Linked DNA regions of Homo sapiens: all the other regions are linked to region 1. The links come from fine-mapping of genetic effects on gene expression. A gene starts in region 1. Each other region holds a variant in brackets. All regions are shown on one strand. Distances are between the middles of the regions.

Region 1 (4,248 bases):
AAATACAGAAAGCGGGCGAGGAGAGGTGGTTTTTCCCCTCTGCTGTTCCTGGGGACACATGTGATGCTCTGAGAAGGCAGAAGGGAAGATTCGAGCTGATTATAATCTAATGAGGCTGCCAAATCAGTTTCACTTTCCAATACCACATAAGGACTGGTGAGTCTCATGGGCCCTGAGCCAGGATTATTTTAACTGGTAGCATTAGCTGGGTCAGACCGATCAGCCTCTATGGGGAATACTTTGGGAACTGTCATCTTCCAAGCCAGCGCAAGAACAGCCTCTGCCACTGAACTGATGGTGATACACACGGTATTTGGAGGGCAAATCTGATTCACATGCAGTAGCAGGAGATGGAAGAGTGGTTAAAATGAAAGGGAGAGGAGAAGAAGAGCAAGGGACGAGCATAATACAGGGAAAGAAGAATAATACAGGTAGAATAGGAATTACATAGAAGGGAGAAGATCATTTTTTAAAAAAAATAAGGGCCAGGCATGGCAGCCTATAATGGTAGGCAGCACTTTGGGAGGCCATGGCTGGAGGACAGCTTGAGGTCAGGAGTTTGAAATCAGCCTGGGCAACATAGCAAGACCCCCATCTTGACAAAAAATACAAAAGTTAGCCAGATGTGGTGGAACACACCTGTAGTCTCAGCTACTCAGGAGGCCGAGGCAGGAGGATCACTTGAGTCCAAGGGTTTGAGGCTGCAGTGAGCTATGATCATGCCACTGCACTCCAACCTGGGTGACAGAGACCTTGTCTCTAAAAAGTAAAGAAATGAAATAGAAAATAAAAACGAATGGTAGAAATAAAAGGAACTGAGTAGTAGGGGGCAGAGGCATGTCTAGGGGAGAGAACTAGAACTGCCAAGGGATTTGAGTGCCTGATGGATTCTGAAGACTGAAATATACATGACCCCAAAAAGCAATGTCATTTGTAAATATTTGTTAATGAGTTTAGTGAAGTGCTACATGGAGGAATGATCTAGCCAATGAGAACAATGTGCACCAGCCAGTTGGATTCTTGAAGCTGCAGAGACTTCATCTTCAGCCACAGCAGGTGGCTGAGGGCTAGAGTTACTTGGGACTTTCCCCAATGCTCTAGTTCCTTCTATCTCTTGGAAACAAGTCTGGCTCAATATGTTCAGCAGCCCCATTGATGTTGCCCAGAGGAAGTGTGGATCAGGGCTCGCTGACCCCAAGGTTAGCAGCAGAAGAGCAGGGCCTCTGCCTCCCCAGCCAGGAAGCCCACAGTCTTGGCCACATGAATGAAGGAGGTCTTGGCAGCATCTGACACACCTCGGGGTAATGATTTAGCCACCCCAAATTACCGTGTCTCCACAAAATAGTCACTTGGGGCCACACTACATTGTGGAGAGATAATGAAAGAGCTTCTATTTTTGAGCTATCTTTTCCTCATATGCGAATAATTTCACACACAAAAAAATGAGAAAACCACTTCTCTCTGTCACCTACAGAATCAGGAACAGGGATCAGATTATCTTTTAGATACCCGCCCCAAAAAGAAATAAAAATCAAGAAAACATGGGTAAATACCATGGTGGACATTTAAATGAAGCTGAGAAAGAAAGCTTTCTCTATTTAGAGAAGAATTCAAAATGGATGGCAGGAGATTTGTTGAAAATAAGGAAGAGGGAGGGAAAGGTTAGTAAATAATAGGTCAAATCTTCAGCCTAGAGGGCACTACTAAGTTTTCTTTTGTTCCCCCTTAGGTTTCCTGGTGTAGCAGTGCAGTTGCAACGTAGTTTTGTTTTTTGGGTTTCTTTAAACCTAGAGTGGTAAGAGGGACTTGGTGGCGATGGACTGCCATGGGTCGGTTCCTTAGAGGGCTCTTGAGTTTTTCCCACCTGTCTCCAACTCCAGGGCCACCACTCTAATAAAGCCACTGCCATCTCTGACCAGCTCCCCTGCTGTGGCTTTCACTCTTGCTCTCTTTACAGCCCATTCCACACAGCAGCAGCCAGCATGGCACTTCCCGTTCTGGGCCCCTCCCACTGACTGCACCCTGTGCTTGTCCTTCATAGTGTGTAAAGATCTGTATGTGGGGTGATTTGACTAACGGTTCTCTCCCCTTAAGTATAAGTAAACCTATGAGGGCAAGGACTGCTTACCTTAGCATCCTTGGTTCCTGGTAGGATGCCCATCCCATAACAGGCTGGAGCTCCTGGGTGTGTGGGAGGGAGTAGGAAGGAAGCAACAGCTGCCAATCAAAGGCCCATTTGGGCATGTGACCCTTAGCTAGCCAATCAGAATCCTTTCCAGGGTTGTAGCAGTTGAAGCTGTGAGCAGCTCAGTTGGTTGGGTTGTCTGTCTTGTCTTGGCTTGGATTCTCCCAGAAGGAGATCCTGAGTCAATGATTCGGGTGCAAGTAGATTTCTTCTGGGAGCCTTTCTTTAATAAAGCACTTGCACCTGAGTCATTGACTCAGGATCTATTTCAGGATCTCCTTCTTGAGGGAGAGGGCGAAACAGGATCCAGAAGAAGCAAAGCAATGGAGCAGGCATGGCATCAGGAAGAGGACAGGGAGGCTGCCGTAAGCCCAGCAGGCTCCCTTTCAGGCTGTTAAGGAGGGGGATGAGTACGAACATGAAGGTGGCCCAAGTAGCTCTAAGGTCCCTTCTCTCATCTCCTGTCCTTACCGGGGGCCGTAGGCTCTAGATAAAACGCTGCCCCACCACCCGCCAGGGCTTTTGTTTTGGCTCACCTTTCATCCGCCTTCTCAGACTCTGTCTGCCTTGGCTTCCCTCAGCTGAACCCAGGGAATTTGCATTTTGCTATTTTCCATCTGCACTGGGTAGCCTGGCTCCAGATGTTTGGGGCAGCAAATGCAGAAATTCCAGGCAAACGGATCTGATCATTCTCTGCTTGGCTCCACTCGCTGCATCCCAAGCACCAGATGCCTCACTGGTGTCTGCCTACCTTCCTGGGAGGCAGATCCACCGCTCATAAGATAGAGCCCAACGACAAGACCCTGTACTTATGGAGGCCTTTTATTTAACAACTCATTTCATTGAAGGAAAAATCTAGAATCTACTAAGACCTCCTGATATTTTTTAATTAACTAGAAATTGTGGATGTATCCCTCAATATTTTCATCTAAAGTGGTTGAAATGATAATGGAGGGGAAACTGTGTTTTAAAAGCGTGTTACTCCATTTCTTTCATTCACCTCCATCAATGATAATATGAGTTATCACTCTTAATATTAACCACGTGGCAGGCTTCATGCATTCTCACATACATTTCACCCTAAGGCCTGGAGAAGATAATTTCACCAAAGTCACACAGGTAGTACATGGAAAGGTGTAAATTTGAACCTGGATCTTACTGCAAACCCATACTCTTAACTGCTTCATTCAACTTTTGCCAGCAATCATTTGTCATAGACTAAATGCCAGAACCTAAGCCCAAGATTTTGCAGTATACAGAGGAGAAACTGGATGTCTTTTGAAATGCTTCAGAATGGTTTCTATAGTACATATCTGAGCAGCACTCCATGACCAAAGGATGCCAAATCCTTTGCCCCTTGTATTACACTTCATTCATTAGTTCATTCATTCATTCAACAAATGCTTATAAAGCACTCCTGTAAGGCATTATTCTAGGCACTGAGTGTTTGTTATTGAACAAAAAGGACAAAAAATACCTCACTATTCTCAGAGTTTACATTCAGGGATGCAAGAAGGAGCGTGAAACAGGAGATAGGCAATAAACATTAAAAAATTAAGAAAATTTTGTAATATGTTAAGAGGTGATCACTATGGAGAGAAAAAGCAAAGTAAGTGAAATCAGAAGTGCAATTTAAATTAGGGTGGTCAAGTCAGGACTCCCTACGAAGTTGACTTTTGAGCAGAGTGCAGGAGGTGAGGGAGTGAGGCATGTGGCTATCTTGAGGAAGAGTGGTCCAAGCAGAGAGAACAGCCAGTGCAAAGGCCCTGAGGCCCATCCAAGGAACAGTGATAAGACTGGTGTGGCTAGAAGTGAGGGTAATAAGAGACAATGACACAGAAGTAACAGTAGCCAAAAGGCCAGAAATAAGAGGCACTATTTTTATGTCTTGGTCTCTTGAAGGATCAGTAATGTGGTGGTTTCCCCAACACCTGCTAAGCCCTCAAGGTCTTTATATATGCACCATTTTCAGGATTCCAAATGAAAAGAACAGTATGGTCCCGATGGTACCAACGGAGTAGCTTCAGCTGCTCATAGAGCTATTCCTATCCCATTCACCCCAC
Region 2 (4,248 bases), 330 kb after region 1:
TTGTTTAAATTTTATCACGTCAGTATTTTTGCTGGTGCTCCAGTGCTTTCTGGATTTAAGCTGAATCTCAAAAGATCTGTCATTTTAAAAAGAACACTAAAACATAGACTTTATAGGAAGGCCTATAAGGTTAAATTCATATATCTCAGATATATGAAAAGTTTTGACATATGTCTAAATAGAGAATTTTTACTACCATGATATCTCGTAATTTTTTTTTTTATTTCCAGTGTGTGCCATATTTAATTGCTATGGGCACAGACCCAGAACCTGCTATGCGGAACAAGGCTGATCAGCAACTTGTGGAAATAGACAAAAAATATGCTGGATTCATTCATGTATGTATTTTAACATTTTATAACCTAAATTTAAACATTTTTCTTGAGTAAAGCATTTCTTTGATAAATGCTCTGCCCACATTCATAATTGGAATAAAATGTCTTACTTAGTACCTATCTTCTAAACATGCAACTAAGTTAGTCTTCCAAGGTGTTTATTCTAGTCTAAAGTTAAGGTTGGGCTAGAGGTGACAGTACCAAGCACACCAGACTAAAAATCAGGAAACCTGGATTTTATATCTTACTATGTGAACTTGGCTGCAGTGACTCTCCTGGGCCTCATTTTTTTTTTCTTCTTTGAAATGAGGGAATTGTAAGAGATAATCTCTAATGTTCCTTCTAGCACTTCATTCTGTGATTCGTATTATTTTAATTAAAAAAAAACAATGAAGCTAGCCTCAGAATGTAATGCTCTAAGTATATTTTTAATTTGTGTCTTTTAATTTCCCTGACAAAAATGAGACTTTTATTGATTTCAGATGAAAGCAGTGGCTGGTATGAAGATGTCTTACCAGGTACAACAGGCAATCAACACATGCCTAAAAGATCCTGTAAGGGGTTTCAGACAAGACGAGTCCTCTAGCGCTTTGTGTTCACACCTTTACTCCATGATCCGTGGAAACCGCCAACACAGACGAGCCTTTCTTATTTCTTTACTCAACCTCTTTGATGACACAGCAGTAAGCACAAAAACTTATTATTTTAAGAAAATAAGTGCTCTAGAAATTTTATGGATAAAGTAGTCATTTTTTAAATATTACCATTTTATTAGTATATGATAGTAACTTCATTAAGTGTTTTCTTAATCTTCTAAGTTATTTACAAAGTACACAGTCAGAAGTGAAGGGGAAATTTTGTATGAGAATAAGTGTAATGAGGAATAATGTATAATTTTGCCTCCATACTGAATATCCTATAAACTTTGATAACAGTTTCTGTAAGCGTATCTTTAAATAAGCAACATCACTAAACTAATCGCTTTGGGAACCGATTACCTCAAATATTGTTAGAGAATAACTGTTCTAGGTTTTTGGCTATTGAGATCCCTAGTTGTTCAACTTGATTTCCCTTAATGAAGGGAAGTCACTTTTCTGTATAGTAGTCCACTTTTGTGTATAGTAGTCCTCCCTTATCATTAAAGATACATTTCATGACCCCCAGTGGATGCATGAAACCATGGATAGTACTAATTATTATATATACAGTCATGCATCACTTAATGACAGGGATACATTTGGAGAAATGCATAGTTAGGCGATTTCTTTGTGGGGTGAACATCTTACTTACACAAACCTAGATGTTGTAGCCTACCTAGGCTATATTGTTCCTGGGCTACAAACCTGTACAGCATGTTACTGTACTGAATACTGTAGATAACTATAACACAATGGTAAGTATTCATGTACCTAAACATATCTAAACATAGAAAAGGTACAGTAAAAATATGATAGGATAATCTTATGGGACCATCATCATATATATAGTTTGTAATTGACTGAAACATGTTATGTGGCACATGACTGTACTGGTTTTTCCAATACATACAAACCTATGTTAAAGTTTTAATTTATAAATTAGTCACAGTAAGAGATTAACATAATAATAAAATAGAACAATTAAAACAATATACTGTAATAAAAGTTATGTGAATGGGATCTTGCTTTTCTCTCTCTCTCAAAATACCCTGTTGTAGTTTACTCACCTATTTTTGGACTATGGTTGACCAAGGGTAACTGAAACTATGGAAAGCAAAACAGCAATTGGGGAGATTACCATAATTACAATTTTGACACTTCTGGCTGTTGCACTAGTTGCATTGGCCAGGACCATAGGCCAAGAAAACTGAATATTCTTTAAAGTTTACCTTTTAATTTATTTATTTCACACAGTATTTATTCTGCATCTGCTATGTACCAGCCATTGCGCTAAGAAGTTTAACGAGCATAAAATAGTAAAAACAGATATGGTTTCTGCCCACACAGAGCACGCATGAACCTATGTGTATAGCAACTTTTAAAAGAACAAAAGAGGCCAGGAGTGGTGACTCA[C/T]GCCTGTAATCCCAGCGCTTTGGGAGGCCAAGGCAGGTGGATCACAAGGTCAGGAGTTCGAGACCAGCCTGACCAACATGGTGAAACCCCATCTCTACTAAAAATATAAAAATTAGCCGGGCGTGGTGGCACGCGCCTGTAATCCCAGCTACTCAGGAGGCTGAGGCAGGAGAATTGCTTGAACCCAGGAGGCAGAGGTTGCAGTGAGCTGAGATCACGCCACTGCATTCCAGCCTGGCCGACAGAGCGAGACTCCGTCTCAAAAAAAAAAAAAAAAAAAGAACAAAAGAAATACTTTAATTACTTGTTAGCCTGACAGCAGATTTTTGCAATAAAGCAAAATTATAATTACCATAGTGCAGATATCTTACTAGACCTCTTCAAGTACTACATGAAATTTATCATCAACATTATCATCATATCATTATCAGTATTAAGTTTGCATTGTGTATAGGACACTATACGAGGAGTGCCAGATGATATAATGTAGTGCTTTTGCCCTGAAAGGATTTTCCCTCCAGCTGTGGGGATAGGATACAAAATTAATAGTGATTACGGTTAGTATATCCTGAGTGCCCTGATGGTTTGTGTTGATAATATTGTTCCAGTCCTTGTTTCTGTCCAAAAGAACTTCATTTCTATGTGATTTCACTGCCTGCTTTATGTCATTGACTAGATGTTTTGTCATCTCAGCATTTGAAATGCTAAACTGGAAACCCAGCTCTCACAATGCAATGCTTTCTTCTGACTACCTCCAACAAAGAATGTCAGAGAAGGAACAAATGCCTGAAGGCCCAGAGGGATAGAATGAGAGGGATCTGCTATATAAACCAGGGAAGGAAGATGTTCCAGTCAGGGCCAAAAAATTAATTAAAAATACAAAGATAAGAATGTGTGGGAAATAATGAATAGTTTGTTATTTGACTGGGGCAGAAAGGTCATAATGAGGAATAATATATAGAGGATCCTGTAGATGGCAAAAAAAAAAACATTGTAAGTGTGTGAATAAAATAATGAGGACAATTGCCAAAGAGCAGTTTAGGAAGATGAATTTTTTTAGCATTGTGGTCACACTGGAGGTAATAATAAATTACTATGATAACAGTAGGGGAGAAAAAGAATGGATAGTAGAGGCTGGGTGTGGTGCCTCATGCCTGTAACCCCAGCATTTGGGGAGGCCGAGGCAGATGGATCACCTGAGGTCAGGAGTTCGAGAACAGCCTGGCCAACATGGCAAAATCCTCTCTCTCCTGAAAATACAAAAAAATTAGCCAGGCATGATGGCGCGCACCTGTAGTCCCAGCTACTTGGGAGGCTGAGGCATGAGAATCACTTGAACCTGGGCAGCAGAGATTGGCAGTGAGCTGAGATCGCACCACTGCACTCCAGCTGAGCGACAGAGCGAGACTCCATCTCAACAGTAAAAAAAAAAAAAAAAAAGAATGGATAGTAGAAAAGAAAAGAAAGTTGAGGAAAGAATTAAATGAGACTGTGTGAAAAGAATAGTTAGTGGACAACTGGAATATTTTTATCTTGAGCACCTGAAACAATAATAGGATTGTTGCCAAAGTCAGATTGCAAAGGAGTTGGCTTGAGGAGTACATAAAAAGGGAGTAGTCAAAGAGGTAGGAAGAGAAAACTTAGGAAGAAGATTTCATGAAGGAAAGTGTGGGTAATAGTCAGATGCTACTGAGAAGTCAAGGAGAGTAAGAAGTGAAAAATAGAGTAGAATGGTGAACTTCGTGGACAAAAACAGTCAAGCAGTGAGGGACAAAAGCAGATTGTAATTGAAAAGGGAGGGCCAGGTGAGATGACTCATGCTTGTAATCCCAGCACCCAAGGCAGATGATAGCTTGAGCCCA
Region 3 (4,248 bases), 200 kb after region 1:
CCACCTCCTTATTTTTTGTATAATGACCTTGAATTTTGACCCATTTCTTAAAAATTGGATTTTTATCATAATTTTTATACTCTTACCCTAAACCTATTAGTTTGATTTTTCAATAAGAAAAATCATGCTATTCATAGTATAGGTGAAATCTCATCTGAGGTTACCCACTTGAGTAGTATATTCATAGAAAAAGTATTTTGAGTCCTTAAGAGCCATGAAGAAAACAAAACTGAGGGGTCAGTTTTCTTTTGGCCATTGTCGAGTATTATACTTTTAACTTAGTATGAAATGTAGGAAATGTCCAGCATACTGGATACTTATTTCTCTGGAATCACTCTGGCTGTCTAATGGTGGTATTTGGTATTACTGCAGAAAGCACAGGTTTTGTTTTAGAAAGTCCTGGATTTGACTATCTTACTCATTTTATGAAGTTGTGCAGTGATGAACTCTGAGGTTCATGTACTTATATTACTTATAAAACATTTAAATTGTTAGGGTTGTTATGCCTAAACTTGATGATTTTATGTACCATCGCAATTTTGTTGAGAAGATAAATGCCAAAAAGCAAACCCTTGGAAAATTAGTTTACCTTTCTTTACCTTACCTTTGATAAAGGGAATGTTAAAGGGTAACTGATTTGAACTACAGATTTCTTTTCTACCACCTTTAAGGTCCTTTCCAGTATTATCTCTGTAAACAAAGTTAAAGAAAAATACATTTGAAAGAAAAGATTTGTTGTAACTAAACCAATTAAAGCTGGCTTCTAGGCCAGGGCTGGTGGCTCACACCTGTAATCCCAGAACTTTGGGAGGCCGAGGCGGGCGGATCACGAGGTCAAGAGATCAAAACCATCCTGGCCAACATACAAAATTACAAAATTTTTGTAATTTTGTACTAAAAATACAAAATACAAAAATTAGCTGGGTGTGGTGGCGTGCACCTGTAGTCCCAGCTACTTGGGAGGCTGAGGCAGGAGAATCGCTTGAACCCAGGAGGTGGAGGTTGCAGTGAGCCGAGATCACACCACTGCACTCCAGCGTAGATGACAGAGCGAGACTCCATCTCAAAACAAAAAACAAAAACAAACAACAACAAAAAAATGCTGACTTCTCAGGGCCAATGATGTTATTCTCTGAGATATATATATATTTTTTCCTTTCATGGATAAGTTGAGGACATTATCTTGATATCTCTTGATCTGATAACTAGAGTAATCTTTGAATATTGTTGTTAGTTATTATTAAAAACACTTATTAAGGTCCTTTATGGAAAGTGACCAGTTTCCTGCTTTTATATACATTCTTCTTTCTGTGGCCTGAAACATTATGTGGTCTTTGGTTATTTACTTTACAATTTAGTTATTCTGATAAATACTCTTACTTTAAAAATTTTATATCCAGAAGAATCTTTTTCTGCAGTCACAGAAGTAGTCTTGGTTGACCTGTTTTGGCTTTCTGTGTAATGTCTGTATTAGATACCAACTGATTGATATAAATGAGACTCTAAGGGGATAATAATAAGTGTTAAGGCCCAATCAACACCCTGAGGCTGTGAAAATGTTCACTACTATTTGTAGAAAGTTCATATATAATATGATATAAAAATTGCAAATTGAGTCCTGGCAATATCTAGTCTTATAAATGGATAGAGCAAGATGCACTTTTGAGTGAATGAATTCCTGTTTTAAAGTGGTTAAGGATTATATTTGCAAGTTCCAAGTTATCTGTATTCTACTAATTGTCCTATAGATGACATTGTTATAATTTGTTCACTCACATTGTTGCTTTCCACTAAGATCTGTTATTATTATCTTTAGGATTTTCTTATTTGTTAACATGATTGCTTAAGTGATTAATCAAACTAAATCAGATAACATAGAACTCAATGAATATAGCTCTTAACTTTGGATAACAGCTATTTTCCTCTTGAACTAATATCCAAATTTTTGATCTTTAAATGTTACAACTGCAGTAAGCATGGAATATTATTGAAATAAATTTAAATATAACTGTTTAATAAATTATTAATTATGGATGATTAATAAAATGTTTAGTGTGTTA[CTGAA/C]TGTTTCTTGAGAAAATTTTATATCAGTTTAAATAGTTTTGTAGCTTGTCAGCATTACAGAATTTTTTATTTTTTTATTGTGTCATTAAGTGTAGTGGTTAAGAACATAGGCCTGGAGTAAGATTTGAATTCATATTCTGATTGTGGTCTTTATTAGCTGTGTGAACTTAGGCAAATTACTGTAACCTCTTTGAAAAGGCTTCCATTTCTATAATAGTTTGCCAGCTGGTTTGGTCAGGAACACTGTATTGTCTTGTGTATAGGTGTATCCACAATGTCTGGTACCTTGTAGGTACTCACTAAATTTTTAATGAAATGAATGATAACTGCTTTGGATGATTGCCATGAAAATTAAATGATGATATGAATGTAAAGCAGCTAGTAATGTACATAGCTGACACTAACTGCTGTTATTATCAACAGTGACAGAAAATCTCCAGTCTAGCTAATACAAGAAATAGATTTTTCCTCAGACTCTCATCTCACATTCCCTTTTAAGATTTCCTTGTCCTATCCCCACCCCAGACGTTTCCATTTTGCTTTTATTTTCTATAATAATTCCTGGGGGCCTCTATTAAAGGCCTTTTTCTTTGACTACTTACATCCATTATACCAGTATCTTTGTCAGTAAAATTTTATATATCTTTTATTCTGTCATCAGGTTAAGAAACAATAATTGTATTTTTAAAGGAAAATATTTTACGATGCTACTAAGCAGTTACTTTGTCCACTTATGCAGGTATTTCATAAGTATGAAGTAGGGAGGTCAATATCTGTCTGACAGGAATCTGCTGAAGATTAATGTTATCTAGCAGAATGCTTGGCATATAGAAGGTACTCAAATAAGTGATGCTATCTATTAATAGCATTGATAGTAATACTTTAAAACACTCTTTTCTAGTATATCATATCTCCAAATTTAATATTTATTGTCTTTTACACTTATTTTACATACATTAATTCATTACTTTTTTTTTTTTTGAGATGGATTTTCACTCTTGTTGCCCAGGCTGGTGTGCAATGGCGTGATCTCGGCGCACTGCAACCTCCGCCTCCTGGGTTCAAGTGATTCTCCTGCTTTTGCCTCCTGAGTAGCTGGGATTACAGGCATGTACCACCACACCGGCTAATTTTGTATTTTAGTAGAGACGGGGTTTCACCATGTTTGCCAGGTTGGTCTCGAACTCCCGACCTCAGGTGATCCATCCACCTCGGCCTCCCAAAGTTCTGGTATTAAAGGCATGAGCCACCGCGCCCAGCCAGTTCATTAATTTTTAAAATAACTCTGAGGTAGGCACTATTATCCTCACTTTATATTTGAGGAAACCCTCAAAGAGACTAAGTAAATAACTTAAAGTCTTTCAACTAGTACGTGGCAGAATTATAATTAAAAACCTGTTTTTGCCACTATTGCATATTGTTAGAAGGCTGTTTCTTCTTGAGGCTGAGCTAAGAGAACATATATCCATCCTACGTAACTTACAGTTCCCATTGTCTGTTCATTTGCCTATATTCTACTCACATTTCCTGCTTTCCATTCTTACTTATTTCTGTCCAACTAGACCAAGAACATAATATTCTATACCCTGTCTCCCAAACTTCTAAGTCATGGATTTGTTTTAACCTCCTGCTATGCTCATTTAGCTAGGTATCATTTATGAATATTTTCTTCTCATTTTCGTACCCATTCTCAAGTCTAATTCATTGATGACTCAGTCACGTCAGTAGTTTCTCCATTACCATGGCAATACCTTCCTGAATATGAGAATAAACATATATCCTGACTTAATTCCTTTGGCTCACTCTGTGAATTCTTTACCACTTTTGAACACTGTAAATGTACCTTTGAGAACTTCTTTGTTGCCAGTTTGATTTAAAAACAAAACAAAAAAATGTTACTGACTGTTCCAGTTATCTGTTGCTGTGTAACAAACTACTCCCCATACTTAGTGTGGTTTTAAAATAACAGCCATTTTCCTATGTCTCACGATTTTGTGGGTCAGGAATTTAGGCAGGGCTTGGCTTTGTTCATGTGGTGGTGATGGAGGTTACTTGGAGGTATTCAGCTGGTAGATGGGCTGGCCAGAATAGTTCCAGATGGCTTTACCCATATAAGTGCCGCCTTGGTAGAGACAGCCAAAAGGCTCGATTCAGCGGAGACATCATGTGTAGCATCTGCATACA

The links. PIP is the estimated chance that this variant, and not a neighbour inherited with it, causes the effect. A credible set is the group of variants that fine-mapping cannot tell apart.
Region 2: its variant is the best candidate, but not a certain one, in a credible set for the expression of SLC1A3-AS1 in whole blood (INTERVAL, PIP 0.84).
Region 3: its variant is the best candidate, but not a certain one, in a credible set for the expression of SLC1A3-AS1 in whole blood (INTERVAL, PIP 0.56).

The regions. Positions count from the first base shown.
Region 1 is chr5:36,722,986-36,727,233 of GRCh38, forward strand. It overlaps SLC1A3-AS1 (SLC1A3 antisense RNA 1), which reads right to left and starts at 2,203. Exons shown (of 2, transcript XR_007058736.1): 1 at 2,129-2,203. RefSeq lists enhancers at 781-830, 841-890, 931-1,200.
Region 2 is chr5:37,051,549-37,055,796 of GRCh38, forward strand. NIPBL (NIPBL cohesin loading factor) reads left to right here. Exons shown (of 47, transcript NM_133433.4): 41 at 231-338; 42 at 818-1,018. Among named protein-coding and RNA genes, the nearest start is that of NIPBL, 180 kb to the left of the region's middle. The variant C/T (reference allele first, on the strand shown) is at 2,387.
Region 3 is chr5:36,922,241-36,926,488 of GRCh38, forward strand. The region is part of intron 1 of NIPBL (NIPBL cohesin loading factor); the gene reads left to right. Among named protein-coding and RNA genes, the nearest start is that of NIPBL, 48 kb to the left of the region's middle. The variant CTGAA/C (reference allele first, on the strand shown) is at 2,061.